3 linked regions of the Homo sapiens genome follow. The protein of the gene in region 3 purifies or fractionates together with the protein of the main gene of each other region. This does not show direct contact. Each region holds a gene or a part of one and is shown on either strand. Other genes may lie near its edges. The genes, in order: IQGAP3, MAML1 and FRYL.

Region 1 (3,500 bases), on a different chromosome or scaffold from region 3:
TCTGGGCAGAGCCAGCACCTACGGGTCCTGAATGACTATCTGGAGGAAACACACCTCAAGTTCAGGTCTTGGGTCCCTTTCCTCTCTGTCCCCTTTCTTCCCTCTTCTCACCTTTGACATCCCACTTGTCCCCTCCAGAATCCATGAGGACAAGAGGCATAAATAGAAGGGATGAGCATAATGAGCGGGGTGGAGGATAGGTTGTTGGAAGGACTCCCCAGTGGAGAGAAAAGGAGACTATTAAGAGAGATTGTCTTGAGGGGTCACTGGGACAGAGGTAGGGCAGGACAGAGGGCAGAAGCTGAGACTGGAGAGTCCAAATTGGCCTGAGCAATCACTGGAGAAGGCTGGGGAAATGATGGGGACAGAAGATGTGTGGGGTGCTGGCCCTCCCCGCTCTCTCACATGCCCGCCCTCTGGACAGGAAGTTCATCCATAGAGCCTGCCAGGTGCCAGAGCCAGAGGAGCGTTTTGCAGTGGACGAGTACTCAGACATGGTGGCTGTGGCCAAACCCATGGTGTACATCACCGTGGGGGAGCTGGTCAACACGCACAGGGTGAGGGGCTGAGATCTGGAGGGTGTTGGCTGGGTGGGCAAGGGTTTGGTAGCCTGTGATGGGGTAGTGGGCTGGCCCCAGAGGGAAGACCTGGCTCAGACCCTGCATCTCCTTTTCTTTCTCCGTCCTGCAGCTGTTGCTGGAGCACCAGGACTGCATTGCCCCTGATCACCAAGACCCCCTGCATGAGCTCCTGGAGGATCTTGGGGAGCTGCCCACCATCCCTGACCTTATTGGTACGTGCCCTCCTTAGCAGCTGAGGCCAGCTAGGGGACCTGCATGGAGGGAGGGACAGGCAGGCAGGCAGGGCATGTGAGCGTGCCCATGCAGCCTAGGTCTTGTGCCAGGCGGCTAGTTCCATACTCTCCCTCTGGTCCTGACATGGGCACAGGGACACAGATTGATGTGGAGAAGGTAGACAGACAGTAGAGGGACCCACGATCATCATGGAAAACGGTCAATGAAATGATCTGAAAGAGGCACAGGGATCAGGGCCTCATTAGGTTTCTCTGAGAAGGAGGGGTTTCCGGGCCATGGAATAGGAGGAAGCCAACTTACTGGGAGGAAGGACAGAATGAAGATGGTGATTGGAGAGAACCAGGAGCTGCAGGCTCAGGGAGGCACAGCTCCTCTACCCTCAGGGCACCCAGGGCTGAGGGTGTGGGGGTGGCACAGCCCCAGTAACACAAGGGTATGCTCTGTGGGTAACAGCCCTTCCATCGGTGCTAAGGGTTGGGGACACAGGGTAGTTCTGCAGGCCAGTGTGGGAAAACTTCCTGGAAGAGGGGCATGTGGAGCAGCTGATTTAATGTGACCCCATCGGTGCATGTGTGTGTGTGTATGTGTGTGTGCGCATGTGTGTGTGTATGCCTGTCTCCCTCTCATTCCTCACCACACCTCAGGTGAGAGCATCGCTGCAGATGGGCACACGGACCTGAGCAAGCTAGAAGTGTCCCTGACGCTGACCAACAAGTTTGAAGGACTAGAGGCAGATGCTGATGACTCCAACACCCGTAGCCTGCTTCTGAGGTGGGTGATGCCAGCCTCTGCCCCTGCATACCTGAGCTCCCCAGCCCTGAGGCCAGTAAAATGGCCTTATTCTGAGGCGCCCATTCCACCTTCTTCCTGGGCTCCCTTATCCTTCAGGAAGTTCTCCCTGAAGCCTACCTTTATTCCCCTCGCTGCAGCCTTGGCTCTTTTCCATCTGGTATCCTCAGCTTTTTGCTCTGTGTTGTACTGAAAGTAAAGGAATGGTGAAGATATTGGCAACAGCAGGTGTTTGCATATCGTGCTGTTTACCAAATGCTTTTTTCTTTTTTTTCAAGTAGAGACAGAGTCTCGCCATGTTGCCCAAGCTGGCCTCAAACTCCTGGCCTCAAAGCCATCCACCTGGCTCAGCCTCCCAAAGTGCTAGGATTACAGGATTGACCCACTGCGCCTGGCCCAAATGCTTTTTTAATAAGTTATCGTTTATTCTTAGAAACAAGCTATGAGGTAGATGGTGGCTTCCCCTCTTCATAGTTGAGGAAAGACTCAGTAGTTATGTGATTTATCCAAAGTTCCACAGCCAGTGGGTTGTAGAGCTCATGTTCTAATTCCACTTTTTTTTTTTTTTTTTTTTTGAGATGGAGTCTCATTCTGTCATCCAGGCTGGAGTGCAGTGACACGAACTCAGTTCACTGCAACCTCCGCCTTCTGGGTTCAAGCGATTCTCCTGCCTCAGCCTCCTGAGTAGCTGGGACTACAGGTGCTCGCCATCATGTCCGGCCAATTTTTGTATTTTTAGTAGAGATGGGGTTTCACCATGTTGGCCAGCCTGATTTTGAACTCCTGACCTCAAGTGATCTGCCTGCCTTGGCCTCCCAAAGTGCTGGGATTACAGGCGTGAGCCACTGCGCCCAGCCTAATTCCGCATTCTTGTTGAGTGTGATGGTCAGGAGATGGGCATGGAGCTCTTCTTCCCCAGTTCTACAAAAGTGAGGGAGGACTCCCAGTAGGGGTGAGCTGGTCATCTGGGCAGAAGAGGAGCCAAAGTGCCAGCTCAAGCTCCTGCCAACAAGGCAACCCCTTGCACCCACTCATTCACTCAATAAACAAGTGAGCTGGCCAGGTGCGGTGGCTCATGTCTGTAATCTCAGCACTTTGGGAGGCCGAGGCAGGTGGATCACCTGAGGTCAGGAGTTCGAGACCAGCCTGGCCAACATGGTGAAACCCCATCTCTACTGAAAATACACAAATTAGCTGGGTGTGGTGGCAGGCACCTGTAATCCCAGCTACTTGAGAGGCTGAGGCAGGAGAATCACTTGAACCTGGGAGGCAGAGGTTGCAGTGAGCCGAGATCATGCCATTGCACTCCAGCCTGGGTGACAGGAGTGAAACTCTATCTCAAAAAAAAAAAAAAAAAACAAGTGAGCTGAGTATCATCTTTGTCCTGCCATCAAAGGGCTGAGAGCAGGATCGGGCTAGGGCTGAACACAGAGCACCACCAAGAGGGTGGTGGGTGTCAGATGCATTGAGAGCTAAGGAGAAGGGATGGCTGGGTGGGAAGGACATGTGTGCTCAGCTGAAGGACTCAAAGGCAGATAGTTTGTTGGGAAGGTATTCCAGGCAACGACATCCCCTATCCCTCGCTCTCTCTCCTTATATCCTAGCAGCCATGCTATAGAGCACGGTCCACTTACTCTCAGACCTCTGGCCAGTCCCATGTCCAGGCCCTTCCCCTGCCCCTTACCTCTCCTCTGTCACTGTCCTCCTTGTGCAGCACCAAGCAGCTGTTGGCCGATATCATACAGTTCCATCCTGGGGACACCCTCAAGGAGATCCTGTCCCTCTCGGCTTCCAGAGAGCAAGTGAGTAGCCGGGCTGGCCCACAGGTTCTGTCTCATTCATCCCCCACCTCATCCCACCTGCACCGCTGCTGTTTCCCTCCTCTGAACCTCACCC
Region 2 (3,722 bases), on a different chromosome or scaffold from region 3:
CTTCCTGAGTAGCTGGGATTACAGGCGCACACTACCACGCTTGGCTTATTTTGGTATTTTTAGTAGAGACAGGGTTTCTCCTTGTTGGGCAGGCTGGTCTCGAACCCCTGACCTCGTGATCCACCCACCTCGGCCTCCCAAAGTGCTGGGATTACAGGCGTGAGCCACCGCGCCCGGCCTATGCTATTTATTTTTAGCACATGGTCACTTGTTACTTTAGGTCGCATCTTTTCAACTAGACTGTCAGCTCTTGGAGGCAGGGAGGGCTCACACTTGGGTAGTACACATCTGAGGTGCATCTTAAGTGCCTGTTTGTTGAATTATTGATAGAAACTTGGTAGTGCTTTACTCAGTAATCTCTCCTCCTATACACTAACTTCAAAAAGCAAGTTGATGTAACTTCATGAGCCACCTTTCATGGCTCATAGTAACAACTCTTGTAAGGAGGGACTTTTGTTATTTTTTTTTAGGGAGTTTCGCTTTGTCGCCAGGCTGGAGTGCAATGGTGCCATCTTGGCTCACTGCAACCTCCGCCTCCCAGGTTCAAGCAATTCCCCTGCCTCAGCCCCCCAAGTAGCTGGGACTACAGGCTTGTGCCACCACGCTCCCCTAATTTTTTGTATTTTAGTAGAGACGGGGTTTCACCATGTTGGCCAGGATGGTCTCGATCTCCTGACCTTGTGATCCTCCCGCACTGGCCTCCCAAAGTGCTGGGATTACAGGCATGAGCCGCCACGCTTGGCCTGTGTAAGGAAGGACTTTTAAGAGTAGTTCGTGGTCATTGCAATTGAAGTAAATAATGAAAGCTCATAAAAATCATAGTTTAATACACAAATAGTTGCCTTGAATCCTCCCTAGAAAGTATATTAGGGGGGCCGGGAGCAGTGGTTGACTCCTGTAATCCCAGCACTTTGGGAGGCAGAGGTGGGTGGATCGCCTGAGGTCAGGAGTTCGAGACCAGCCTGGCTAACATGGTGAAACCCCGTCTCTACTAAAAATACAAAAATTAGCTGGGCATGTGGCGTGCGCCTGTGGTCCCAGCTACACGGGAGGCTGAGGGAGGAGAATCGCTGGAACCTGGGAGACGGAGGTTACAGTGAGCTGAGATCGTACCACTGCACTCCAGCCTGGGCAACAGAGGGAGACTCCGTCTCAAATTAAAAAAAAAAAAAAAAGGTATATTAGTAATGATTCAATTTTTGTTTAAAGTTGTTCTAAGAATTTAGACCCTGTATGATTTTTTTTAGTCCTGAGTCAGTGGGGGAAACTGGGCATGCTGTTTGAAGAGAAATTAATTCTGAGTGTGTTAGAATTTGAATCTAATTTGTCAGTCATTCCTTTTGATATCAGAGCTTAATCAGATGTGCCATGTTAAGGTGATGTCTTTTTATCACATTAAACCTTGACTTATGGATTTCTTGAGTTTAAACTCTACGGTGGATGTGCTTTTCTGTGTCTCTGCTAGGAAGAGGGACGCTTTGCATTTGGACTCCAAGTTAGTCTAGCTGAGCTCTTTGGCCTTGGAATGGGGTCATCGGAACAGAAGATAAGTATCATTAAGAAAACAGTGGCTCCTTCAATTCAGGGGGGAAGAGAGTCCTTGAGTATGTACGATTTTGGCTTGGAGAAAACAGCTTTGCAGAAAGAGATGGAAAGAAGGTACCTCTTAGTCATTGTTATTTTTGACAACTCCATGTATTTGATCTCATTAATATTTCTTACTTAAGGAATATTATAAGTTCTTAAGTTTTTTCCAAGTGAACTATATACTGTTTGGCAGTCATTTCATAGTTACTTCACCAGCAACCCATTTGTATGACTGAGAAGGGATCAGATTTACTGCTAGAGTTTACTTCACTTCAGATTATTGTTTTCTTAGGATATCCCACCACAGCGAAGTCTTAGCCACTATCTGCTTAGTCTGTTAGAGATGAATCAGAAACACTGTTTCAGGCTTTTTCTCTATTCTAATTTTCAAGGAATGAGTCTATTAGGTTTTCATTTCTTTTCCTTTTTTCTTGAAACAGGGTCTGGCTCTATCACCCAGTGGCGCGATCGTGGGGCACTACAGCCTTGAACTGCTGGGCTCCAGGGGTCCTCCCACCTCAGCCTCCTGAGTAGCTGGGACTACAGGTGTGCACCACCGCACCCGGCTAGGTTTTAAAGTTTTTTGTAGAGATGGGTGTGAGCCACCTTGCCTGGCCGAAAGTTGATTTTCTTACTTAGTTTTAGGTGTGTAAAGTTTCTTTCTCTCTTTTTTAACCTTTTATTTGTAAATAATGTCAAACTTAGAGAAAAGCTCTAAGTTTGGTACAAAGAACATCTGGTTACCTAGATTTACCTGTTGTCACTGTTGTGCCCCATTTGTTATCATTTGCACATTCTCTCTCTCCCACTCTCTGCCTCTTTCTCTCTCTCTCAGACTTTTATTCTCTGAACCACCTGAGAGTATGCTGCACACCTCATAGCTCTCTGCTGCCAAACCACCCCATGTGTACCTTTTAAGAGTTAAGAAAGCTGTTAATTTTGTAGACCAAACTCTTGTAAGAATTATGAAATAACAAATTATTTCCAGGAAGTAGATATTTCTGAATATAAAACAGATACTGTACTGTAATCATGTGGGGCATTAGTTTTTTTAAAAAGATGATCAGTGTGGCTTTAGGATCTCATTTCTTCCTGTAATGCCTGAGACCTTGTCTAGAACCCTCTTTCCTTTTTTGTCTTCAGTATCTCCCTTCCCAACTGAGTCTTTCCCTTCAGCTTGAAATTATGAACAAATATTCTCCACACTGACAAGTCCTGTGTTTTCTCACTGTCAAAATAGTATTCCATATTCTTCTTTCCCTTTGCCCTTCCCACTTGAACTTCTCATTTACTCATTAGCCTATGGTAATATGCCTTCTACCTCTTCTATTACTCTGAAGTTGCCTCCGTAAAGGACACCAAGGATGGACTTGCCAAATTTATTGGCATCTTTTTTTTTTTTTTGGAGACAGGGTCTCACTGTGTTGCCTAGGCTGGAGTGCAGTGGCACCATTATGGCTCACTACAGCCTCAACCTCCCAGGCTCAAGTGATCCTCCCACCACAGCCTCCTCAGTAGCTGGGACTACAGGCGTGAGCCACCACACCCAGCCTCATTGGCATCTTAGTCATCATTCTTCGTGACTTCTTCCTTTTCTTAGCTTCTCCTCTCTTCTGATTTCCTTTTCAGCTTTCTGACTTTTTTTCTCAGTCTCCTTACTATTTTCCCTTATTAATTCATGCAGCAAATATTTGAGCACCTGCTGTGGGCCAGAGTACAATCAGCCCTCCGTATCTGCGCATTCTGCATCTGCGGATTCAACCAACTGTAGATAGAAAATATTTTTTGGAAAAAAAAGTAAAAAAATAACAGTACAACAATTAACACAAATTATAATATGCAGCTCAGCATGGTGGCTCATGCCTGTAATCTCAGAACTTTTGGGAAGCTGTGGTGGGAGGATAGCTTGAGCTCAGGAGTTTTAGACCAGGCTTAGCAATATAACAAGACTCCATCTCTCAAATAGAATAGAATAGAACGGAACGGAACGGAATAGAATAGAATAGAAAAATAAAAATAAAAATATAGCTGGGTATGGTGGCTCACACCTGTAATTCCAGCACTTCAGGAGGCCAAAGCTGGTGGATTTCTTGAGCCCAGGAGTTCAAGACCAGCCTGAGCAGCATAGTGAGATG
Region 3 (3,822 bases):
GTCTCTTGCCCCCACTAGTGATACCTAAACCACCTTCCTGCAACGTTCCCTTTTGTTTCCTGCTCTTTCATATTTTCGGGAATCCTCATGAAATTTTTCACCTGTATTTGGGGAAAAGTCCTATGAACTACCAACTACTGATGTTTACTTACCCTTCTCTGTCATCATCAAGCCCCTTTTCTAGGGTACTGCTGAGCACTGACACTTCCTTGGCACCATTAGATTATACTGGGGTATCACTGCAAATGTACTAAAGCCCCCGGGGTACACAGTCTTCAAGGTTCATCGGCAAAGAGGGAGAGAACACATAACCATTTTCCCCTAACATTCTTAGATGGGTACCGAAGCTGTACCTGTACTCAATTTTAGTGGAAATAAACCTTTTAGTTCTTACAGCTCCAGTGGGAAACTGGGGAAACTCTAAAGCAGACCCCGCACTAGGCTTCCCCATAATTTCTTCTCTTTTCAATGCGTGAGGTTCTGCTCCATGGTCAAGCTTCTGGTATCAGATTCCCTCTTTCCCTTAGACAGACTCGTTTTCTCCTGAGAGGCATCTCAGTTGTTCAAGTGACCTGGGGTGTTTTTCCTACAGTTCTAGCAAGGGGGAACGAAGTCCTACACTTTGAGGATGGCATAAGGGTACCATCTACTTAATTTTTTCAAAAAAGTAACAGGTCTCGTGGAAACGCGGGAACGTCACAGAGGACGTGACTTAAACGGAACTTGTAATGGAAATGATTTTCTAAATGAACAATTGCGAGACAAGCAAGGAAACCTCCAGGTTTGCAGATAACTTGATTAAAGCTCTTCCGGGTGGCAAAATGCCAGTGCAATCAATGGTATGAGTAGGGCGGACAGTGGATGAAACTTGTTGAGTAAATCTCAGGAGGAATTAGCACTGGACTTTCAGGTATTCTAACTCAATTCTAACCATTCCATTCTCTGGATCATTGGATAAGGTTCCGCAGGATCCGGGCGCCAGCTCTGGATACATTACTGATCGGGAGAAAATTTTGAATTTTTCTCTTGTCCCTTTCCAGCTTTCCTCAATATAGGATATGAGTTTGTCCTCGACCCCTAACAACATTTAAAGGTAAAGTCGCTCCTAGAAGGCAAAGCGGAGAGGACTTTGCGGCTGTGTTTCTCAAGCCCGTAAAGAGAGAGTAATAATGGTAGGGAGCGTGCAGACTAGCTCTTTCCTTGCCCAATCAAGTGTACAGGAAGATGTCCTTTCACCAATAAAAATAAAGTTCGCTTTCCGGAGGCGGGAGGGTGAGCCTTGACTGCCAGGGCTCCAAAGCAACGTTAGAGGCGAGGGCAGAGAATGATTAGAGGGAAGACCAACCCGGGAAAAGGGGCGGGGAGAAGGTAGGAGCAACTTTGAGCGGCGGCTGGCCAGGCCAGTGGAGGGCGAGGACTGCTGTTCCTGTTGTAGTGTTTCTCGCCAATCAGGAAGGCCAGGGGGCGGGCGGGGTAGGGAAGGGGTGGGAAGACCTCGCAGCACAGCCGGGCGCCCGTCGGGCTCTGGGAGAGAGCGAGAGAGAAATCCGGTTAAAATCAGAGTCGGAGGGAGGTTTAACCACAGATCGGTTCCGATCGGATTATTCCTTAAAGGGGACGCGCCATTGTCAAGAGAACGGAGCCAGGGGCCCGAGGGCGGGGACCGGCGGCGCTGGAGGAGCGAGGCAGCTGTACTAGGACTGGGAACGGGTAGGTGTTGACTGGGGAAAGGCGCTTCATTTTACTTTCTCTTCCAGCCCCGGGGCAGGCGCCGGGATGCCCGCCGCCGGCAGCCCAGCCTGGGCGGGAGACGAGGTCGTCGGCCCTCGCCAGCTGTCCTTCCTGGTGGGCGCCGAGGGAAGGCGGTCCAGGATGGCTGGCAAGCGGCGCGGCGCGGCCCGGGCCGGCGCTCGTAACGGACACCAAACCGCGGCGCAACCCCAGCCTCAACCGAAAGCCCGCCCGAGCTCCGGCGGTTCCGCCGGCAGCGCCGCGCGCCCGTCTCTCCCGCACGTCCCCTTCCCCTCCAGTGCCTGGCTCTTCTCGCGCGCGCCCGGGTACCCCTCGCGCGCCGCCTTCTCGCGCGTCCTGCTCTGGTCGCGCGCCGCCTCGCCACCGACTCGCGGGAGCCGCCCCGCGGGAAGGAAGGCGGTGGCAGAGGTGGAGGAAGACCGGCGACCACGGCTCCGCCGCCTCGGCTGGGAAGGGAGGGCTGAGGAGCAAACTTAGCGCGGCGGCTGGCGGGCCCCGGCGGGCAGGGCTGGCGGGGACCGGCGGAGCGCGCCAGCCCAGCCGGGCATTGTCCGCCTTTTCCCTTGCTCTGGTCTCTCCGCCCACTGCTCGCGGTCCTGGGGAGGGGTGCGGGCGCTGTGCCCGCGCAGCCCCGGGCCGTTGGCGTACCCCGGGACCCGGAGTCTTCCGGAGCCGGAGCCAGCCCTGCGGACACCGCGGCCACCGCCCGCGAGCTGACTCGGCCTGTAGATTGCCTGCTGCTCTCAGCCTCGGCACCGGGCAGGGTGCCTGGGCGCTGAGCTCTTCTTTGCAACTTTTATTTGCCGTTTGATGGAAGTTGTTGCTTCCGGGCGGCAGGTTCTTTGGGCACAGCCTGGTTTCCTGCGTTCTGGAGAGGCTGGTTTCTAGGGCGAAATGATTTATTGCTGCCGGTCTTTCCTGCCATCCTAGTTTAGTTCCTCGCCACCTAAAATCGCATTTTTGTGGATTTGCAATGATATGGGAGCATTAATCTTTCCTAGGCCAAGATTTGAAAAGAAAAAAAAGGGGGTGGGGGTTAGGGTGTGTGCTGGTGAGGAGCAAGAGTTCTTAGTAGAGCTGAGTTTGCCCTTACCTTTGAACTGCGGAAAATATTACTTCGATTCACTGGCTGGGGTTCTTTTGGAAGGGTAGGGGAAAAAAGACACAGCAAGACAGGTTGCCAGGGTCTGTCGGATTGGGGGGGAAAAAGGGTTTTGATGGAAGTAAAGTTGGTTTTATAAAATGCTGTGCTGCCTAGGAGATATCGTCTGTAAAGTTGATTCTGCTACTGAATTTACAGCCATTATAATTAGTACCAACAGCTTTTACTATTGATAAAAACTAGTATAAGACGTCTTTTCATCTTGAGCATTATCACTCTGCTTAATCTGTCAATACTTGCCGAGGAAATCAGAGATAGCACATTCCTTGTTAGAGGCCTTAGTGAAGAATGTTTTCATAAGCATTCATTTTTGACAGTTTCTTCTTGTGCAATACTTTATGTAGAGTACTTGCATGTGCAAGTTACAACCGTATAAACAAAGTAGCAGTGGGTGTGTTATTCTCTGGTCTTTTTTCTGCTACTCATTATCAAAAATAGCATTCCATCGTGTCTTGTCTTCCACTCTGAATTATTTTGTAAAATTAGTTCTCTAAAAGAGGGAATTCTGTTGGAACATGTGACCCAGTTTTTTTTTTTTTTATTAAAGCAGTCCAACTTTTTAAAGCGTTCATCGATTAATTTATTGTCTAGTAACTTCGGAGTGGTGTGGAACATTGTAAATTCACAGGCTCAGCAGTAACAATAGAGAAACTACTTGGGAAATTGGAAGCCAATATCAGATAATGTTTGAAATAAAAATCTATTCTTCTCACAGAATTTAGGAAATAAAGACACACAAAAACAAATTCTTTGGGTTCAAGTGATCCTCCCACCCCAGGCTCCGTAGTAGCCGGGACTACAGGTGGGCACGACTGCGCCTAGCTAAAATTTTTATTTTTTGTAGAGATGGTGGTCTCACTTTTTAATTTTTCGTATAGACGGCTGGTCTCCAACTCCTGGCCTCAAGC

What was found.
Region 1: the proteins of FRYL (region 3) and IQGAP3 purify together in Homo sapiens (co-immunoprecipitation; one large-scale study listed by IntAct). This does not show direct contact.
Region 2: the proteins of FRYL (region 3) and MAML1 purify together in Homo sapiens (co-immunoprecipitation; one large-scale study listed by IntAct). This does not show direct contact.

The regions. Positions count from the first base shown.
Region 1 is NC_000001.11:156,531,066-156,534,565, reverse strand, and holds part of IQGAP3 (ras GTPase-activating-like protein IQGAP3), read left to right. Parts: coding exon 1-65; intron 66-424; coding exon 425-557; intron 558-690; coding exon 691-793; intron 794-1,459; coding exon 1,460-1,586; intron 1,587-3,318; coding exon 3,319-3,406; intron 3,407-3,500.
Region 2 is NC_000005.10:179,735,807-179,739,528, forward strand, and holds part of MAML1 (mastermind-like protein 1), read left to right. Parts: intron 1-3,722. UniProt on the Homo sapiens protein: Acts as a transcriptional coactivator for NOTCH proteins. Has been shown to amplify NOTCH-induced transcription of HES1. Enhances phosphorylation and proteolytic turnover of the NOTCH intracellular domain in the nucleus through interaction with CDK8.
Region 3 is NC_000004.12:48,777,966-48,781,787, reverse strand, and holds the start of FRYL (protein furry homolog-like), read left to right. Parts: upstream 1-1,508; 5' UTR 1,509-1,710; intron 1,711-3,822. UniProt on the Homo sapiens protein: Plays a key role in maintaining the integrity of polarized cell extensions during morphogenesis, regulates the actin cytoskeleton and plays a key role in patterning sensory neuron dendritic fields by promoting avoidance between homologous dendrites as well as by limiting dendritic branching.